Linked DNA regions of Homo sapiens: regions 2 and 3 are each linked to region 1. The links come from fine-mapping of genetic effects on gene expression. A gene starts in region 1. Each other region holds a variant in brackets. All regions are shown on one strand. Distances are between the middles of the regions.

Evidence for each region. PIP is the estimated chance that this variant, and not a neighbour inherited with it, causes the effect. A credible set is the group of variants that fine-mapping cannot tell apart.
Region 2: its variant is the best candidate, but not a certain one, in a credible set for the expression of PLEKHO1 in whole blood (INTERVAL, PIP 0.71).
Region 3: its variant is the best candidate, but not a certain one, in a credible set for the expression of PLEKHO1 in whole blood (INTERVAL, PIP 0.83).

Annotation. Positions count from the first base shown.
Region 1 is chr1:150,147,719-150,151,958 of GRCh38, forward strand. It overlaps PLEKHO1 (pleckstrin homology domain containing O1), which reads left to right and starts at 2,198. Exons shown (of 6, transcript NM_016274.6): 1 at 2,198-2,569; 2 at 3,194-3,340. The coding sequence starts at 2,540. RefSeq lists silencers at 1,826-2,285, 2,426-2,505 and an enhancer at 2,138-2,638.
Region 2 is chr1:150,027,213-150,031,452 of GRCh38, forward strand. All of the region lies in intron 1 of LOC124904413 (a long non-coding RNA gene), which reads left to right. It also overlaps a transcript of OTUD7B not described here. Among named protein-coding and RNA genes, the nearest start is that of OTUD7B, 19 kb to the left of the region's middle. The variant A/C (reference allele first, on the strand shown) is at 2,308.
Region 3 is chr1:150,174,573-150,178,812 of GRCh38, forward strand. The region is part of intron 3 of LINC02988 (long intergenic non-protein coding RNA 2988); the gene reads left to right. Among named protein-coding and RNA genes, the nearest start is that of LINC02988, 16 kb to the left of the region's middle. The variant G/A (reference allele first, on the strand shown) is at 2,218.

The DNA.
Region 1 (4,240 bases):
TTTTTTGTATTTAGTAGATATGGGGTTTCGACATGTTGGTCAGGCTGGTCTTGAACTTCTGACCTCAAATGATCCACCCGCCTCGGCCTCCCAAAGTGCTGGGATTACAGGCGTGAGCCACCACACGCAGCCCAATATTTGTTGACTGATAGAAACTACTGGGAAAGGAGGAAGATGGGGCAAATGATGAATTACTTTTTTCCCATAAATCAGAATCTATTTAAATGATAACTCTAAACCACTCCTGTGTGTTTGTCCAGCAAGCCCTCAAAAAATCGTGCAGGCTATTTGCTCACCAGTACATTTGGACATTTTGCATCCTCACATATGAAGACACCCTGGATTTGCTCATTATTTTTTCATCGCTCTTTAAACAGGGGGTTAGAAAATAGAGACGGTGGAAAGGGGACAAGATGGTTTGGGGAACGTGGTGTGTGCACACTCATGCCCATGGGAGGGGGTTACAAAATCTGAAGAGGAGACTGCAGTCAGGAAGCCTGGATTCTAATCCATTTAGCCAGTAACTTGATGTATAAACTTGGGCAAGTCAGTTTATCTGGCATGCCCTGTTTCCTCATTTTCCAAATGGAAATATTAATACTCTATATACCTTACAAGGTGGCATTAAAAGTGTAAAGAAATGACATATAAGAGCATTTTGAAAGGATAAAGTTCTGTGTCAGTCTAAAATCGTGGAATTAATTGGTATGGTGAATGGAAAGAAGTTGAGAGGAATATCATTGGATTAGGAGGAAAGGTGGAACTGGAAAAGAGAGGGAGCCCCTCCTTCATTTGACAGACACCAGAAAAAGTCAAAAGAGCCTCCACTATTCAAACCACAAATCTAGCCAACACTTTTATCTTGAGACATCTCTGGAAAAATGATTTTTCCTTTTCCCTGCTCCTCAGTGCCAGGGATTTTTATTCATTTTGTGGTTACTGCATGCTTGCCATATGCCAGGCAATGTGTTTATTAGCTTATTATGATTTCAAAATTAGCCCTGGAAGACAACACATATCTTCAAAGGACTCTCAGAGGTCATCTCATATCTTCCCCTAGCTTTCCTTGTTGATAAAAATGGCAGTTCATCCCTCACCACTTAATACGTGGAGGGACGCGGGCCTAAAGAAATTCAGTGACTTGACCAAAGCCCAGAGTGGTGATGAAACCAGTACCCAAGCGCGGGGTTTCTCACTCCCCTTTTCCATCACACGTATATATATTAAAAAGACATGAAGTTACTAAGATGTGTCCTGGAGGCTCTGAGGCAGATCTGCTGTAGGAGGGATCAGCAGAGGCTTCTCTAGTCAGGGCATTCTCTGGGCGTTCAGCCCTTCCCTCCACTGGGCTCCAGCGCTGTAGAGAGGGTGGGGTTTTTACCTATCAGTATAGCGGGAAAAGATACCCAGGTGGCAGGAAGTTTAAGCCTCACCTGGAACTTATATTGAAAGCCACTTGGTAGAAAGGATAATGGTTTGGAGACAGAGTTCTATTCCTGCCAGCATTGACACTGTGTCTGAAAAGCCAGCATCGACACTGTGTCTGCAAATCCCTCAGCTATTCTGAGTCTCCGTTTTCTCCCTGTGAGATGGAGATCATAAAATCCGCCTCATCCTTAGGATTATTCTCCTGAAGCTACAATAAGGCCTGAGGCATTGTACGCTGGAAGAAACGTGTATTAATAGCAACTTCTGTCCCACCCCATCCCCCAACACGTCGATCCCCTCCGGAGCATAAAACTTTCCCCCAGCATCTGACCTGCCCAGGCCACCCTAGCACCTAGGAGCGTGAATTCCTGATGCGGGTTGTGGGTGGCGCGCCCTCCCGGTTCCCGCTCTCGTTTTTGTTTTTGGTCGGGTAAGGCGATGCTGTAGAGGCTGGCGATCTCCAGTCTTCACGAATCCGCACGTCTCTCCATTATCCACCGCGCCCGCCCACTGGGCCCCGGGGCGGCCGGCGGCCGGGTCTCTCGGGCTCCGCGTGTCGCCCGAGCCGCCGCCGGAGCGAGGGTCCCTGCCCCCTGGGGAGCGGTCTCCAGCCGCTTCGAAGCCGCCTTCTTCCCCCTCCGTGAGTCAGAAACAAAGGCGGGGGGGCGGGGGGAGCGCCCGAGCTGCGGCTCCGCGATTCGCCCTTTATTCTGAACTCGCAACGTCAGCGGCCCGCGGATGGAGCTGCGGGGTGCGGACTGGGCCGCCCACAGCGCACCGGGCCGGGGGAGCGGCCGCGCTGGGCCGGGCGGGCGGGTGGCGGGGGTGCGCTCGGGGACCCGGGCCGCGTGGGCGCCGGGATGGAGGGCGCCAAGGGGCGGGGAGCGGGCGTGCGTGTGTGTGCGAGTGCGAATGCGAGGGAGGCCGGCCTTGAGTGAAACCGGAGCTACAAAGAAGGGGAGAGTCCGGGAGCGGGAGGGCGCGAGGGAGGAGCGGCGGCGCCGGGGCAGCTCCGACGCCCTCCCGCGGGGAAGGAGCCCCCGCGGTGCCGCCGAGGCCCCGACGCGGGGCCGCCCCTCGGCTCGCCGCCCCGCGCCCGCGCCCGCTGGGAATGATGAAGAAGAACAATTCCGCCAAGCGGGTGAGTGCGCTTGCCCGCCCTGCGGCCGCCGCCGCCTCCGCGCTCTGACGACCCCCGCTCCGTCGGCGCCGCGGCGGCCTGGGAGACCCACGGCCCGGCCGCGCCCCCGCCCCGGCGGCCCGGTCCCCTCGGCCTCGGCCCCGCCAGGCGCCCGCGGGGGCTTTTGTTTGTTTACTCGCCTCGGGGGGCTTCAACTTGGCTGAGTTTCCCCACGACCCGCACCTCCCCCGCCCCCGGGCGCCGGGCGAGCGTTTGCCTCGCGCTCCGCCGTGGCGAGGAGACAATGGGAGAGAAAACCAGAGAAACGCCGTTAGTCCCCGCGCGGCGAGGACGGGGCGGCGGGGGCGCAGGGCCTGGAGGGAACCTGGGAGCCTCTCCGCGCCCGGCCGGCGCCCCTGCCACTTGCAGCCCCGGTTGTTTATTCGGGAGCGGGGGAGGGGAGCGGGGGGAGTTCCTCGGAGTGAAAACCTTTCCGAAGTGGGAGCGAACCTGGGGCGGCCCCCCGCCCCCCGGCCGCAGCCTTCGGAGGAGACTGGGCCGCCGAGGCGGTCGTGAGAGACGGACGGAGAGGAAGCGCCGGCTGGAATCTCCTAACCGCCCGCTTCTCATCTTGTCCTGGGGCAGGGACCTCAGGATGGAAACCAGCAGCCTGCACCGCCCGAGAAGGTCGGCTGGGTCCGGAAATTCTGCGGGAAAGGGATTTTCAGGGAGATTTGGAAAAACCGCTATGTGGTGCTGAAAGGGGACCAGCTCTACATCTCTGAGAAGGAGGTGGGTGCCTCTTGCCTCTAACTCTCCGTTTTCTCATAGCCCCCACTTTGTCACTCCCCAAGGGCTCGCCTAGCTTACTCCACCCCCGTTTTGTTCCAAAGGCAAGTTCAGTGGTCTCCTCTCTACCCCCATCTCATCTGCAGAGAAAGGCCACCCTTTAATGAGAAGACCAGAGTGAGAATTAGAAGTTGAGTTGGCCGCTTACTCAGTGTTTTTTTGTTTGCAAATACCTTTCTAACAACGATAAGCCCCTCCCAAGATGCCCCAGAAGTTCTAAGTGTCCCTTGCTGCCTCCCACCCTAACCTGGCCTCCTGCATATAGGATTTCTTTTCTATTTCTGCTGAAACAGTTTAGCCTATTCGCCACCCCTTCCTGTCCCCCCACCTTAACCCAGCCAGCCTCCCCTTTCCTGTCTGTGGCAGGAGCGTGCACAGGTCCTGTCCGTGGCGCATCCGCCCTGAATCACAGAAAACACGCACCCCGCCGTCAGGCCCCTGTGACCTCGGGTGTGTGAGTGGCAGTTATTTTCGTTGAAGCCAGTGTCCCTAACCAGTATGCTCTCTGTTCCCCACCCCCACCCCATTTAAAAAAGGCAAGGAACCCATTTTCTACCCACTTCCTGCCCACCCCTCCATTTGTATCAGAAGGGAGAGAAATGGAGTTAAGAACCCCTGTATGTCTTTGGATAGCTTTGGCTGTGTAGTTAACCATGAAAACCACAGTCTACACTGTGTCAAGACCTGAGCTATGATAATTGAATCCAGACCCATCTCCCTTTTTTCCCTAAGTCTTGGGATCAATAACGTGTACTAATGTGGAGAAATCAGAATTGCCCCTACAGTGGTTAGAAGTCATTCCATTCCCTGCCTCTGTGACTGTCCAAAGGCAGTCAGTATAGC
Region 2 (4,240 bases), 120 kb before region 1:
CACTATCTCTAACTTCAAGGTCCTCATCTTCTATAGGGAATACAGAGAGGTAATAAATAATTATAATACCATGCAGAAATATAAAAGGTAAAGCCGGGCACAGTGGCTCACACCTGTAATCCCAGCACTTTGGGAGGCTGAGGTGGGTGGATCACCTGACGTTAGGAGTTTGAGACCAGCCTGGCCAACGTGGTGACATCCCGTCTCTACTAAAACTACAAAAAATTAGCTGGGCATGGTAGTGCACACCTGTAGTCCCAGCTACTTGAGAGGCTGAGGCAGGAGAATCGGTTGAACCTAGAAGGCAGAGGCTACACTGAGCTGAGATCAGGCCGCTGCACTCCAACCTAGGCAACAGAGTGAGACTCCATCTCAAAAAATAAATAAATAAGTAAATAAGATAATCAATGGCACAAAAGCAGAAGTGATCAACTTGACATTTCTAACTTCATCTGCCAAAGAAGATTTCTTATAATAATCTGCTAGTGTCCTTTAGTGCTAAAAGGATAACTGCTAAAAAAAAAAAGTGTATTTTCTTAAAATTCCAAATTGGAAATATTTCTTTTCTTTATTATTTCCCTATGAAATAATTATATTCTATTCTATTTTATCCTGAGAGATTTTAAGTAGAATAATTAAAAAACTGACTAATTTGGTGAGTTCAAAATATTGAGATGATTAATTAGTCAAGACCATATGAATTTCTCAGACATTTTTAATACAAGGAAAAAATACAATTAAAAAAGCTTTCTGAAGTATCCAAAATAACATATCACTATCTGAATCACAAAACCATAATTTTAGGCTGAATTCCCTTAAATAGGAAAATTAACTTTTTAGATAGTAGGTGGTATTCAATAATACTTATGTTTTCACTAGATCATCTGTACATAACTATTTTTCTCAAAAGAGTTATTTATTTAAATCAAACAGGTTTGACAAGGCTCTAGGATGCAGTTGTCAATAGTATCCTTAACACAACAGATACCATGAAGCCAAACACATAGAGCCAAGCAAGCATTAACAAGTTCTGTAGAGCCCAGCTCAAGCTAAAGTGATCATTGGATTCAATACAATCAAGATCATTTGGCCTAATAAAAGGTTCGGGATTCTCAAGAGAACCTGGGCAAAGCCAAATTAAGAGAAAAGGCAATGTGAAAGAAAAATTAAACACTTCACTGTGGGTTTTTTTTCCATTTTTTTTAATTGTGGTAAAATACACATAATACAAATGTACTACAGTATCTTAGCCATTTTTAAGTACCATATACAGTTCAATGGTATTAAGCACATCAATATTGTTGTGCAATCATGACCACCATCCAACTCCAGAATTCTTTTCACTTTGCAAAACTGAAACACTATATTCATTAAACAATAAGTCTCCATTCTCCCTGTTCCCCCTAACCCTTGGCAACCACCATTCTACTTTCTGTCTCTATATTTTTTATTGCTTTATGTACTTTGTGCTTTTTGAGACAGGGTTTCGCTCTTGTTGCCCAGGCTGGAGTGCAATGGCACAGTCTCAGCTCACTGCAACCTCCGCCTCCCAGGTTCAAGCGATTCTCCTGCCTCAGCCTCCCAAGAAGCTGGGATTACAGGCGTGAGCCACCACGCCTGGTTGCTCTAGGTACTTTGAATAAGTGAAATCATACATATAGTATTTGTCTTTTTTTGTGACTGGCTTATTTTACCTAGCATAATGTCCTCAAGGTTCATCCATATTGTAGCATATGTCAGAATTTCCTTCCTTTTTAAGGCTGAATAATATTCCATTGTGTATATATAGCATATTTTATCAATTCATATGCTGATGAACATTTGGTGAACTGTACTGTTTTTATGAATTACAATTATATATTAATAATCTCTAGTATCGGCTATATTCAATAAATATACTAGAAAAATAGTTGAATTGATGGTGAGTTAGGAAATTCAGTTTTGTTTCCAAATCTCAAAAGATACCAGAGAGAATATATTTATCTATACAGTTAATTAGATGAATAATTTTTGTCAAAATTGTTATAAGTTTAATAGGAAAGTTTCAGTGATAAAACAACAATCCCTACTGTGGTATGTTGACAGAAGGACCCATCCACCCACAAACTGTTGCTTGATTAAACCCATTGTCCAGGGTTCTGATATCAGCAGGCTATGGAACACCAACAATTCTATCTATATTTGAATTGTGATTCAAGCGAGGTCATTCTTGATACTTAGAAGACTTATGTTTGGCACATAAGTAACTATAGTAAGTAACTGCATTTATGACCCTATTGCTTAAGGATGCTTTAGATTTCTAGAAGC[A/C]ATAGCTCAAGAATGAACTTACTGGAGGGTCCAAGAGAAGTTTCAACAATTTAGCCCAAAGAAAGCTCAAGGAAAGCGTTTATTTGCCACTGTCTCCAGTAGAGGTTGTTCATTCTCTCAGAGTCCACAGTCTCCAGGACAAGCAATTTGGTGGTTGCATTCTCTTGGCTTCCCATTTTTCATATAAGAAACAGAGGATCCAAAATATTTCAGTAACTCACCCTAGGTCATATAGCAGGGAAGGTGCAATGGGTTCTCCAAAGATGCTGTCGTCTCTGAAATCTTAAAAGTCCAGTAATCCACAACCTATACAAATCTCCTATCCCTCCATCTGTTTACCCCTCATACTCTCCACACCCCTCTTTTAGCACCACAGCCAGCTCAAGTTCTAGATATCTTCATTTTCTCTGAGTCTATCTAGAAGAGCCCAGGTCCCATAGTCAAACTGTTCATGCACTGGTTCTCTCTTGTCCTTACATACATAATTCATGAACTCCTAATGTTGGATCAGTCAAACTGATTTCTCTGCTACTGCATTCTAAGTACAGCTGGGGAAAATTACACCTGTGGATTGATAACAATACAAATTTTTAAATATCAAATTTAAGTTAGAAAACGCTTCTCTCATTCCTTCAGTCACGATTCTAAACTTTAACCACCATCTTCCTTTATGACCATCACCTTGCTCCTTCTCAAAAGATGACCTAATCTCCCAGTTCACTTAGAAAATTGAGGCCTTGGTGTGGATGGGAAGGAATTTCCTTACCCTCCAGGCCCTACATTTATAAGGCTGTTTACAGCTGAATCTATCCTTATCTCACACAAGTTTCTGAACAAAAACCCTTCCCTCTAGCGTAGAGGAAATGCCCCTTCGAAATGCCCCTTCTGTTCAAGGTTAACATTCCCCGTTATTGTTCATAGTTTTATCCCCTTCTGCTTCCTCAGGGAATTTGTGCCATTAATGTTTCATTTATCTTCTATATTTTCCATTTCTCTTTCTCTCCTGGATTCCTCCCTACAGCCCACAGCACCCTCATTTTAAAACAAATAAAGCAAAAGTCAGCTTCATAAAACATTCGTTGGAACCTGTGTCTCCTTTAAACTGCTGAGCTTCCTCACAAATGAGCTTCTTGAAATGTACACCAAATCTCTCCTCTCTACTTCCTCAACTCCCATTTGCTCTTCAAACCACTTGAATTGGGCTTCCATTTCCACCAGTTCACTGAAACTGTTCTAGCAAATGTCTGTAGCAGCTGTACTTGTCACCCTTTCATGATTACTATTGTTTACCTATGTGTTCTGTTTTGTCATTGAATATAGCTTTGAATTTTTGTCTGTGCAGTTACTGCACAGTTTTTCTTGTTTTTGTTTTTTGAGAGACTTTTGCTCTTGTCACCCAGGCCCGCCACCACACTGGCTAATTTTGTATTTTTAGTAGAGACAGGGTTTCACCATGTTGGCTGGGCTGGGTCCTCGAACTCCTGACCTCAGGTGATTCACCTGCCTTGGCCTCTCAAAGTATTGGGATTACAGGCATGAGCCATGGCACCTGGCCTCTATTTTTTATTTTTATTTTTATCCCCTTATCTGATTTTTCATTGTATTCTTGATTGTGCCCAGCAAGAAGAAATCTAACGAATATTTGTTAAATAAATTAAAGAAAAATTTAAGTAACATGAAAGAGCACGATGCCACCATATTTTAGATGAGGCACAAGGCTAGGCCTAAACAAAACTTTTCTCTGGTGACAACTACCTGCATTATACTCCTCATTAACCTCATCTTGCTGTTTCTGGCTCAGTGCTCTTCTGCTGTCCCACAGAGCCTGTTACTTTCCCTTCTACTGCCATAAAATTTACCTGTCCTATTTTTTATTTCCTCAGGGTCTAAGATTTCAGCCAGCAAGTCAGACAAACTAATTTTCATTAATAGA
Region 3 (4,240 bases), 27 kb after region 1:
GTTTTTGTAACTGTTTATTTACCTTTCTCCCAACTAGATGGTGAGCAGTTTACACAGGTGCTCAACAAATGTATTTTAATGAATGTCTACAAGAGGTTAACTAATTTGAATTTTTAAAAAAAATTACCCGAGGTGGGCGGATCACGAGGTCAGGAGATCGAGACCATCCTGGCTAACACGGTGAAACCCTGTCTCTACTAAAAATACAAAAAATTAGCCGGGAGAGGTGGCGGGCACCTGTAGTCCCAGCTACTCGGGAGGCTGAGGCAGGAGAATGGCGTAAACCCCGGGGGACAGAGCCTGCAGTGAGCCGAGATCGTGGCACTGCACTCCAGCCTGGGCGACAGCGAGACTCCATCTCAAAAAAAAAAAAAATTACACAGCACAATAGAAGCATAATAAAAGTATAACAACAATAATGAACCTATAAGAAGGCATTGAAGTTGCTGCCCAGAAAGTCAGTTTCCCGTTCCAGCTCTGCTCCTTGGTTGTTTGACATTGGGCAGGTCTCAATTCTCACATCTATTTCCTCATCTGAAAAACAGAATAACTCATGTTTGCTCTACTTACCCAGGAGGCTACTGTAAGAATCAAATGAATCCATCAATTTTAAGGTGTTTTACAAACGATGAAGTATTTTGCTGATGTTATTATTTCTTTTTGTTGTTGCTGTTTTGAGACGGAGTCTCACTCTGTCACCCAGGCTGGAGTGCCGTGGTGCCATCTCAGCTCACTGCAACCTCTGCCTCCCAGGCTGAAATGATTATCCTGCCTCAGCCTCCCAAGTAGCTGGAACTACAGGCACCCACCACCATACCCAGCTAATTTGTGTGTTTTTAGTAGAGACAGGGTTTCGCCATGTTGTCCAGACTGGCCTCGAACTCCTGGCCTCAGGTGATCCACCTACCTCGGCCTCCCAAAGTGCTGAGATTACAGGTGTGACCCACCGCGCCCGGCCTGCTGATGTTATTATTTCAACAGAAAAATTATTTTAGAAGTGGCATGCATTTTACTAGGATGCAAAACATGATTGGGGAAACAGACTCAAGAATTCTAAACCTAGGCAGATTGAGGTCAGGGAAGGTACCTCTCATCTCTTTAGTCTTGAAGTAGTCTAGAAGTAATCTACTCCTGGTCTCTGCTGTTTATTATTTGTCTTCTTTGAGCTTCAGTTTCTTTTTTTTTCTTTTTTTTTTTTTGTAGACAAGAGTCTTACTCCGTTGCCCAGGCCAGAGTGCAATGGCACGATCTCGGCTCACTGCAACCTCCACCTCCTAGGTTGAAGCGATTTTTCTGCCTCAGCCTCCTGAGTAGCTGGGATTACAGGCACCTGCCACCATGCCCGGCTAATTTTTGTATTTTTACTAGAGACGGGGTTTCACCATGTTGGCCAGGCTGCTCTCGAACTTCTGACCTCAGGTGATCCACCCATCTCAGCCTCCCAAAGTGCTGGGATTACAGACATGAGACATGGCACCTGGATCTTTTTTTTTTTTTGAGACAAGGTCTCACTCTCGCCCAGGCTGGAGTGCAGTGGTGCGATCTCAGCTCACTGCAGTCTCCGCCTCCTGGGCTCAAGGAATTCTCATGCCTCAGCCTCATGAGTAGCTGGGATTACATGCGTGTGCCACCACACCTGACTAACTTTCATATTTTTGGTAGAGACGGGGTTTCACCATGTTGGCCAGGATGGTCTTGAACTCCTGACCTCAAGTGATCCTCCCACCTTGGCCTCCCAAAATGCTGGGATTACAGGTGTGAGCCACTGTGCCCGGCCCTCAGTTTCTTTATATCATTCTCTCTGAGCCTCGTTTATGTTATATGTAACATGGTGATAAAATGTGCCTTGCCCCAGAAGGTTTGCTAGGGGGTTCAAATTAGATGATTGTTGCTAAGGTCTCTGTGACAGCTATAAAGTACTATACAAATGTAAAAAAATCTTGTATGAATTACCTGAAGGTGATGAGCTTTCAGAGACAGTTTCAGTAAAGCACACAGGCTGAGAGTATGGGAGGCTAACATTGGCAGTCACATCCCAGGAAAGAATAGAACATTTTGGTATCTATTATCTTGGGTTGGATTACACATTGCCTTAGGAACTCCATTGTGACAAGGCCTTGCAAAAAAGTAAAATGAAACATAGGCCCTTTCACATACATTGGCTCAATAAATCTTCCCAACACTGTGCCAAGTGGGAATTATGATGCCCATTTGACT[G/A]ATGGGGAACTGAAGCTTGGAGATGTTGAAACATACCCAAGATTATGCAACTGGCAGATGGCTGCATCAAAACAAATTTCTCCAACTCCAGCAGAAAAGTTAAGAGCATGCTTACATGAAAAGGAAGAGCTGGCCGGGCGCGTGGCTCACACCTGTAATCCCAACACTTTGGGAGGCTGAGGCAGGTGGATCACCTGAAGTCAGGAGCTTGAGACCAGCCTGACCAACATGGAGAAACCCCATCTCTACTAAAAATACAAAAAAAGAAAAAATTATCTGGGCGTGGTGTTGCATGCCTGTAACTCGGGAGGCTGAGGCAGGAGAATCATTTGAACCCAGGAGGCAGTGGTTGCTGTGAGCCGAGATCAGACCGTTGCACTCCAGCCTGGGCAACAAGAATGAAACTCCGTCTCAAAAAAAAAAAAAAAAAAAAAAAAGAAAAGGAAGAGCTAGTCGGGGGTGGCCTTAAACAAATGGCCCATTTCTCATTCCTCCCTGACACAACTTTCTACCCAAGCCAGCAAACATTTTCTTTCACAAATACTTCTTTTCTCTTTTTTTTTTTTTTTTTGTTAGACGGAGTCTCACTCTGTCACCCAGGCTGGAGTGTAGTGGCACAATCTCAGTTCACTGTAACCTCCACCTCCCTGGTTCCAGCAATTCTCCTGCCTCAGCCTCCCAAGTAGCTGGGTTTATAGGTGCATGCCACCGTGCCCGGCTAATTTTTGTATTTTTAGTAGAGACAGCGTTTCACCAAGTTGGCCAGGCTGGTCTCAAACTCCTGACCTTGTGATCCACCTGCCTCGGCCTCCCAACATTCTGGGATTACAGGCATAAGCCACCGCGCCCGGCCAGTACTTCATATTTCTTACTATGGCTGGGGTTCCCAGAGAAACAACTATGACAACAGGTGGATTTAGGATACAACAGGGTGACGTCTGTGCACGGGCAGGAAGGCATTTTTACTGGAGCGGAGTATGATCAATGTTCACAGCTGTGGCAGCCTGCTCCCCTGAAAGATCTTTAATTGGAGAAGAAGTGGCTATAGCCAGCTTCACTCTGACCCTGTTAGAAATGCCCAGTTCTTAAGTCACATCCCAATTCTACACATAGACTCAAGGGTTTGCAGAAACACCCACTACTCTCCCACCTCCCTCCTCATAAATATGTTCATCCTATGGCCTAGGCGAGTCAAGAGTAGTCCGTCAGACACAAAGACACTAGTGGTCCCTATTTATGTATAAATCTTTTTCACCACCTAGAATTCTTCCTTCATTATTTTGTGTCTCTTCCCTTATTTAAAAGCTAATTTTAAAAAATCTAACTCAAATATCAAAAATTAGAAACAGCCCCAATGTACATCAATTTGGAGACCAATTTGGCTGGACTCACACCTGTAATCCTAGCACTTTGGGAGGCTGAGACAGGTGGATCGCTTGAGCCCAGGAGTTTGAAACCAGCCTGAGCAACAGGGTGAAACTCCGACTCTAAAAAGAAATACAAAGATTAGCTGGGTGTGTTGGCACACACCTGTAGTCTCAGCTAATCAGGAGGCTGAAGTGGGAGGATACTTTGACCTCAGGAGGCAGAGGTTGCAGTGAGCCGAGATCACGCCACTGCACTCCAGCCTGAGAAATACAGCGAGACCCTGTCTCAAAAAAAAAAAAAAAAAAAAGGAGACTAGTTTAAATAAATAATGAGAGCACACATTCAAACAATGGACTATTAAAAGAACAAAGTAGACAGGACATGGTGGCTCACACCTGTAATCCCAGTGCTCTGGGAGGCCAATGCAGGAGGATCACTTGAGGCCAGGGTTTGAGACCAGCCTGGGCAACATAGGGAGAGCCCATCTCTATAAAAAATTTAAAAATTAGATGGGCATGGTGGCACACTCCTGTAGTTATAGCTACTTGGAGGCAGGAGCAGGAGGAAGTCTGGGGTTACAGTGAGCTATGATTGCACCACTGCAATCCAGCCTGAGCAATAGACCAAGGCCCTGTCTCTTTAGAAACAAACCAAA